Linked DNA regions of Homo sapiens: region 2 is linked to region 1. Evidence: fine-mapped expression QTL. A gene starts in region 1. The other region holds a variant in brackets. All regions are shown on one strand. Distances are from middle to middle.

Region 1 (4,401 bases):
AGTTACACCAATCTAACAAAAATCAATTTCACTGTATGTTAATTTAAAAAATAAAAATGTTTAAAGTGAAAGAAAAAATATGGTGGGCTGCAGGTATCTGAAAAAATTTTGTCTCTTGGACAAAAGATAATTCAAAGTCCGACTAAGAAATTGCTTCAGGAAAATCATTGGAAAGACAAGCAGGTTCCCTAAGAGATTTCATTCCCAAGTTACATTTTGACATGATGTCTCCAGCTCACTGAGGAAAGCTGTAGCACATATCTGCAGGAAAGCATTTGTCACCAGGCTGTGGTTGAGGGCAACTGCACTATCCACATGAAGACCCAGCAAAGAAATACCTTTAAACACAATTCCAGGCAACCTTGACTTCCCATGAAGGCTGTGTGCTCTCTCCTGATGAGTAAGGTGAGCCAAGGTACTGGTTATGTTTCCCTTTGGCTACCAGAAGGCTCAAAGAGAAACTGACAGCCCAACATCAATATCTGTTACACCCTGAGTCCTGCACACCTCTACATTCTAATTTGGCCTTGATCTGTTGTCTCTTATTTTGCCTGATCCAATCCTTATTTACAAATACTTTCCTATTTTATGGCAGGGATTTCCACATATTTCGTCACATCCACAGTAAAATAGAGGAATGAAGAAACAGACAACATACTTACCTGGGGTTTGGCCATTTCCTGCTCTTCTTGGGAAAAAGCAGAGATGTGTGACGGCCGAGCTGGAACAAGTGGAGAAGAGTACAGCAGATGAGGAGACCCCATCAGACTTTCAGTGCCCAGAATTAGCTGCCTAGCAATCCCCTCACATCAGCTGGCCATCAGACTGCTCTCTGGAAGAGTCTGGGCAACCATGTGATTTTAACAATCTGTGTATTATTCACTCTTCATGTGAACATTGAACACAAAAGGTTTTATATACACATATATTAAATTGTGTACTGACCCATAAAGTGTATTTGTAGGTATTTTCCTTAAGGAAATAATTTATCATAATGTATCATAATTTCTCTGCACGTACCCACGTCTCAGCATTGATTTCAATAATGCCAAACTTAAACGATCCTCTATGACCCATAAGGGATTAATAATAACAAAATATAAAAGATAAAATGCTACAAAGCTGTTAAAAGCGTTATATGGAACTGTACAGTATCTATGCACTTTGTGGTATATGTATCTCAACTAAACGTTTTTAAAAGGTGTACAAAAAAATCCTAAGGTGAATTACAAAGTAGGTTTTAAAACTGCGGGAATCCATTTTAAAGTTATATGTTAAATGTTTAAAAGGCATACCCCTATACACACCAAAAATGTCTAAAAACGGACATTTAAATGTGTGGGGGAAGAATTAGTTCCTGTTGATTTTCTTTTTCTCTATTTCAGAATTAATCTATATATTCAAATGTTATTTATTAAATGCCAAAAAAAACTACACTCTAAAACTATTATCCCAATTACATTTTACCCCCATCTCCCTCAGACCCCGCACCTACCCCTCCTCCCACGCCCCCAACTTGGGCGAGGCCCGGGGTCAGGTGAGACCTCGCAGGTGCCTCTCCTTCCTTCTGCTCACCTCACCGGGGCCGCCTTGCCCAGAAGCCGGAAAGAGGCCTTCGGGTGCGGGGGTGCAGGTTCACTTCGGCCGGAGCATTCACACCAGGCCCCCACCTCGGGGCTTGGGCAAGGGGAGAGGGCAGAGGGAGAAGCGGGGCGCGTCTAAAGAGGGGTCTGAGGGATGCGCATGAACCTTTAGGGGCAGGTCACTGTGCTGGAAAACGTGTAAAAGTCAAAGTTTAATAAGCCCCATTTAATCCTGCTTAGCCCCCATAACTTTGTTCACCAGTGAGCCCCTAGAACCTCGTCCACTGACCTCTCGGTCCCCCATCACTCAACCCCCAACTCCCACTTCACTCATCCCACAGAACTCCCCATCACTCAGCCCACGACCCCTAGCACTTGCCCCCTCAACCTCACTCTCTCTCGATAACAGATTTTCTGCTCGCTGCTCAGGAGACCGTTACAAAGCCTGGCCCCAACAAGCACTTCCGCTTCGGGACCGACTCTTTGGCACCGCAGCCTAAAGGGCTGCAGGGGTCGGTTCTGCGCACGCTCAGTGGCGCCTTTGAGACCCCGTCCGCCAATAGTCAACATGGGGCCGCAGCGCAGGCGCAGAGGGAAGGTAGCCTTGCCGGTGACGTCACTGCTCCAGGCCAGATGGCCGTGCCCACCGTGTCCTTTTGCTGCTGGGGCTGCGTCGCAAAGCGGTTGTTTACTTAGTTATGCAGAGGCAGGCACTCCTAAGACTTCAGACACCAATTTTCTTACGGCAGGGCGGGGAGGGGAAGTGCCCAACTAAGGAAAAGATTCTAGCAGGCGGCAATTTCGCACTTTGAACTTGGAGGGCAGCAACAGGGTTGCAGGTGTAAAATAACGGGAAGGCGGGATGCGTGGCTAAATTGCTCTGCGTGCACAAAGAGTAGGAGGTAGGGAAAAGCCACTGGCTTCATCCAGTGGCCAGGACTGGGAGTTTACGTTGTAGCGTTTGAAGGACGGTGGGTCGGTATGCAGACAAACAAGCTGAAAAATAAACGGCGATGTGGGACACACACACCGGGGGTGAAGGGGTATATTAAGTGGTGGCTAACAGGTTGCTTTTTCTGGATGAGTAGACAGTGTCAGTGTGTTGGGAGTGTAGGGGGTGTAGGCTGGGGCCAGGTGCTGTAGGGCCTCCTTGGCCAGGGAGCTCATATTTCATTCTGGACATATGGGAAACCATAAGAAGGATCCGATCTGTAAAGACCAGTCTGAAGCAATCTAGCATTATATAGTAACGTTAAAAATACACATATATTGGGCTGGGTACGGTGGCGTGCGCCTGTAATCTCAGCACTTTGGGACGCCAAGGTAGGCGGATCACCTGAGGTCAGGAGTTCAAGACCAGCCTGGCCAACATGGTGAAACCCCGTCTCTACTAAAAACACCAAAAATTAGCCGGGCTTGGTAGCACGCCTGTGATCCCAGCTACTCTGGAGGCTGAGGCAGGAGAATCGCTTGAACCCGGGAGGCAGAGGTTGCAGTGAGCCAAGATCACACCACTGCACTCCAGCCTGGGCAACACAGTGAGACTCCATCTCAAAAACAAAAAACAAACAAACAACAACAACAACAAAAGGAATGGAGCTTCCCAGTAGACAAGACAAAGAAAGAAAGAAAGTAAAAAAGGAACTCACATCTGTTGCTCCCTGACACATCAGCACCTCCTGGGTATACAATTTATCCACTCTCTCAATGCATTAGGAGGTAGAAAATAGAAAGGGCTGGTCCTTTAGGGCCCATCAAGTGTCGCCCCTTCTAGCACCTAAACGTCATCTCCAACCACCTTGTACACACACACCTACACAAAGGAGGAAATCTTTTAGGGTTGGTGGGAGTTGGGGGGCAGAGGAGCCAGTGATACAGCCCCTCAGAAACTATCTGAGGGCCCACAGTGTGCATGCACAAGCTATGTGAGGCTAACTTTGCTGCTGCAGAGCGAGGACTCCCACTCTCTGTCCTGGGTATCCTCTACCGTCATTCCCTACAGGTGTGACCTCCTCATACAGTAACCTAAGCAGCAGGTGGCTAGGTGAAGGAGAGTGAGAAGCTGACAGGTGGCTGGTCCCACCACAGAGTCTGCATGATATGACATTCCCACCCAAAGACAATGAGAGAAGCCCCCACGTGGCTGGCGAGTCATCATTACAATTGCTCTTATGATACATTTTATCAAGACCACAAAAGCCTTGCCAATTGTGAGCGGTCATTTTGGACCAGAAGCAGCAGGTGAGGCTGACAGAGCAACAGCACAGAAGGAGCCAGGTCTCTGGTGACCTTGGAGCTACCACACTAGCCCTGGATTACCTGCCTCCAAAAGAGGAATCTGCTTCCCTCCTCTTGAAGCCACTGGTGTTTGTGGTGGGGTTGGTGCGTGCAGCCAGATCAAATCCTGAGCAATCCATCAGATGCTTCTGTGTTGGCCAATGTGAGTGTCAGTGAACAGGAGATACATGGGACTGGTGGGTGAGGGGCATGAATAATGGTGACTGAAGGGCAAATTGGGAGTAAATGAGAGCAAGGAGAGGCAAAGGGCAATGGAATGGAGGTGAATGAACACCAGAGTGGAGTGGATGTGGGCCAAAGTGAGGGAATGACTATGCATGCATTCAATTATGAATGAATTTGAGATTATGATGAGATTAAGTAAATGATGGGAAATGAGGCACAGTCTCAGCGGAAAAAAGGTGAAAGTGGGAGCAGACTCTGAATGAATGGGGCAACTGAAGGGGGTGAATGTGAGTGGAGTTTATGTGAGTACTGAGGATTAGAGTGTGAATGAATGGTGGTTTTATGAGGCACAAGA
Region 2 (4,401 bases), 100 kb before region 1:
TGTGGGCAAAAACTTCAGTCTTTCACCATTAAGTTATGATATTAGCTGTAGGTTTTCTGTACCTGCCCTTTAACAGGCTGTGTAAGTTCCTTTCTAATCCTAGCTTGTTTCATAGTTTTTTTTTTTAAATCATGATTGAGTGTTGAATTTTGTCAAATGCTTTTTCTGCATCTATTGGAGAGATATTATATATATCAGCATTTTTTGTTCTGTTATTATGGTGAATTCATTGATTTTTAAATGTTGAATTAACCTTGTATTTCTGAGATAAATACTAGTTGATTATGACGTATTAGCTTTATTATATATTGTTGGACTCTACTTACTGATATTTGACTTAAAAGTTTGCGTTTTTCATGAGTGATTTGGTTCATGGTTTTCTTTTTTTTCAATGTCTTTGTCATGTTTTGATATTATGGTTATACTGGCTACTAAAATGAGTTATGAAGTGTTCCCTTCTCTATTTTCTGAAATACTTTGTGTGAGATTATTATTTCTTTTAATGTTTCATGGAATTAACCAAGAAAGCCATTTGGACCTAGAATTTTCTTGACAGGAAGGATTTAATGACAAACTTAATATTTTAAATAGATGTAGAGCTATTCAGATTTTTTGTTTCATCTTTTGCCAGACATAGTAAGTTGTACTTTTCAAGGAATTTTGTCTATTTCCTCTATGTTGTCCAATTTAATCCTGTTGTGGTCTGAGAGCATACTCTTTATGATTTCAGCATATGGTCTACCTAGGGGAATGTTTTGTGTGTCCCTGCAAAGAATGTATGTTCAGTTGTTGATGGGTACAGTGTTCTATAATCTATAACTCAGGTTGGTTCCATGTTGTTGAAATCTTCTAATGCCTTACTAATTTGTCTTCTACTTGTTCATTCAATTATTTGTAATTTGGGGGGGTTAAAACTGTCAAAGAGATTTAAAAATTTATATGGATATGCAAAAGACCTAGAATGACCAACACAGTCTTGAGGAAGAAGAAAAAGTACGGAGGATTGACACTACCAAATGTTAAGATTTACTTTAAAGCTATAGCAATCTGGACAGTATGTTATTGGTGTAAAGACACACTAATATATAAATGGAACAGAAGGGAAAGACTAAAAATAGACCCATTAATATATAGACAACTGATTTTTGACAAAGGTGCCAATGTAATTTGAAGGGAGAAATGAAAGTCTTTTCAAATTGTGCTGGAACAAATGGATGTCAGTATTGGGGGAAAAATTCATACTTTGACCCATACTTCACATCCTATACAAAAATTAACTCAAGTTCTAGTATTATAGAATTGTTTATATTGAAATAACCTGCCAGACAGATAAAAAATTGTTAACCCTGGAAAGCATATTTTTAAAACTAGCTACTGAAGATGCTGGAAAGTGATCAAAAGAACATTTTTCTGCTCCATCATATTTTGAGTAATTTGGATTGCGTCCTGAACATTATCAATGTTTATGGTAACATGGTATTCTGTTATATTGTTCTGAAGAATGTCAGTGTTCTTATCACAGCAGGCAATTAACTAGGTTAGATTGACACTGGAAATGCTGTCTCACCTAAGGCGAGTGGCAACTCAGGTGCACTTCAGCCCTGCTTTAATTTTGCTCTACCCATGCAAAGTTGAGGGGTCAGCCAGAGACTTAGGCAGATTTTATACACAGAATTAGGAATTTGCTTTTTTTGATTCTTTCTTTTTGAGTTGCCCCCTTAATCTCTAGTGGCCCCGGGTACCCAGGCCTTCTTCCCCTGATTCCTCTCGCAAAAGGATTACAAGCTTTTATGAGAATTTTAGCTGCTCCACATTGCTGCTAGGAGTGCAGCTACTCTCAACAGAAACCCGAGAAAAGGGGAACTCACTAC[G/A]TGCTAGTCACTTCCTCTAACTTTTGACCCCCCTACAAAATCTGCCTGCTTTTGTTTTTTTATTTTTGTTTGTTTTTTTATTTTTGTTTGTTTTTCTAGAGATTACATTTACTATCTGTAGAAGGGTCTTTTTCAGAAGCTTACTTCTCCATACTGGAAGTAGAACTCTTACCATTGATTCTTGTACATTGACCTTGTATTCCGAGACTTTGCTACATTTTGCTTATTAATTCTAGTGGGTCTTTTTGTGAATAAATACCATAAAACTTTCTGCAAACATTATCATGCCTTTCTGTCATTTCCTTTTTGGTCTATATGCTGTTTATTTTTATTTTATCTTGTTCCCAATCTGAAGGCAAAAACTTTCAGTCTTTCACCATTAGGTGTATTAGCTGTGATTTTTCTTAGATGCTCTTTATTAATTTGTGGCAATTTCTTTCTATTCCTAGTTTGATGAGAGTCTTAAACATGAATTGATGTTGAATTTTCTAAATGCCAAATGCTTTTTATGTATTTATTGAAAAGTGCATTTTATCCTACTAATATGGTGAATTTTTACTGATTTTTAGATGTCAAACTAAACTTACATTCCTGAGATAAACCTTACTTCATCATGGTGTATTATCTTTTTATGTATTTCTTGATTTGATTCGCTAATATTTGGTAAGGATCTTAATCTCCATGTCTTTGAGAGAGATTGGTCTTTAGTTTTGTGGGCGGGGGGGGGTTCCCTTATAATATCTTTGATTTTGGTATCATGTTAATTCTAGCTTCATAAAATTAGTTTGGAAATTTCATGCCTGCTCTGTTTTCTGAAAGAGTTTGTGTAAACTTGCTATATTTGCTAGAATTTTTCAGTGTTCACGTCTCTTGTGATTTTGTATAAGATTACTTTAAATTTCTTTTTCTTAAATATGTGATAAAATTCACCAGTGAACTCATCTGGGTCATCTGAAGTTTTCTTTGTGGGACTGTCTTTAATTTCAAATTCAGTTTCTTTAATATAGGAATATTCAGATTTTTTATTTCTTCTTGTTTTAATAATTTGTTCCTTCAAGGAGTTCGTGTATTCCATCTAAGATGTCAATATTTCGACATAAGTTTTTTTCATTAATACTTCTGTATTGTCACTTTAATGTCTTGTATCTTCGCCAATGTACTCTCTTTCTCTGAAGTTGATAAAATTTCAATTCAACAGGAATATATATATATAAACCTAATTTTCTATGTACTTAATAACATAGCCTCAAAATATATAGTAAACACTGGCAGTATTAAAAGGAGAAGTAGACAAAATGCACAATCATAGTTGGAGATTTTAACACACCTATTTCTCTAACTGTTGTAACAAGCACACAAAAGAATCCCTAAAGAGGTAGAAGACTAGAACATGATAAACCAATATGATGTAATCGACATACATAGGTTACTACATCCAACAACTACAGAATACACATTCTTTTCAAGTATACATGGCACATTCACCAGAATAGACTATTTTGGGATATAAAGCTGTTTGCATCAAATTTCAAAGGATTGAAGTCATAGACTGTATGTTCTCTAACCACTGTTAAATTAAAACTCTGAATAGAAAAACAATTAAAAAATATCTAAATGTTTGAAAAGTAAGCAACACACATCCAAATATCCCATAAGTCAAAAAAGATATCACAATGAAAATGTATTGAGTGAAGTGATAGTGAAAATCGACACATCAGAACTTGTGGGGCCGGGCGCAGTGGCTCACACCTGTAATCAGCACTTTGGGAGGCCGAGGCGGGTGGATCACCTAAGGCCAGGAGTTTGAGACCAGCCTGGCCAACGTGGTGAACCCCATCTCTACTAAAAATATAAAAATTAACGCAAATCAATAAATTTAATCCAGCATATAAACAGAACCAAAGACAAAAACCACATGATTATCTCAATAGATGCAGAAAAGTCCTTTGACAAAATTCAACAACCCTTAAGGCTAAGAACTCTCAATAAATTACGTATTGATGGGACGTATCTCAAAATAATAAGAGCTATCTATGACAAACCCACAGCCAATATCATACTGAATGGGCAAAAACTGGAAGCATTCCCTTTGAAAACTGGCACAAGACAGGGATGCCCTCTCTCACCACTCCTATCCAACATAGTGTTGGAAGTTCTGGCCAGGGCAATTAGGCAGGAGAAGGAAATAAAGGGTATTCAATTAGGAAAAGAGGAAGTCAAATTGTCCCTGTTTGCAGATGACATGATTGTATATCTAGAAAACCCCATTGTCTCAGCCCAAAATCTCCTTAAGCTGATAAGCAACTTCAGCAAAGTCTCAAGATACAAAATCAATGTACAAAAATCACAAGCATTCTTATACACCAATAACAGACAAACAGAGAGCCAAATCATGAGTGAACTCCCATTCACAATTGCTTCAAAGAGAATAAAATACCTAGGAATCCAACTTACAAGGGATGTGAAGGACCTCTTCAAGGAGAACTACAAACCACTGCTCAATGAAATAAAAGAGGATACAAACAAATGG

What was found. PIP is the estimated chance that this variant, and not a neighbour inherited with it, causes the effect.
Region 2: its variant is the best candidate, but not a certain one, in a credible set for the expression of ZNF182 in whole blood (TOPMed, PIP 0.60).

What each region holds. Positions count from the first base shown.
Region 1 is chrX:48,001,933-48,006,333 of GRCh38, forward strand. It overlaps ZNF182 (zinc finger protein 182), which reads right to left and starts at 2,057. Exons shown (of 6, transcript NM_001007088.2): 1 at 1,977-2,057; 2 at 1,576-1,770; 3 at 663-721. The coding sequence starts at 677. It also overlaps a transcript of SPACA5 not described here. RefSeq lists an enhancer at 1,673-1,982.
Region 2 is chrX:47,899,176-47,903,576 of GRCh38, forward strand. All of the region lies in intron 4 of ZNF81 (zinc finger protein 81), which reads left to right. Among named protein-coding and RNA genes, the nearest start is that of ZNF81, 64 kb to the left of the region's middle. RefSeq lists an enhancer at 1,764-1,813. The variant G/A (reference allele first, on the strand shown) is at 1,872.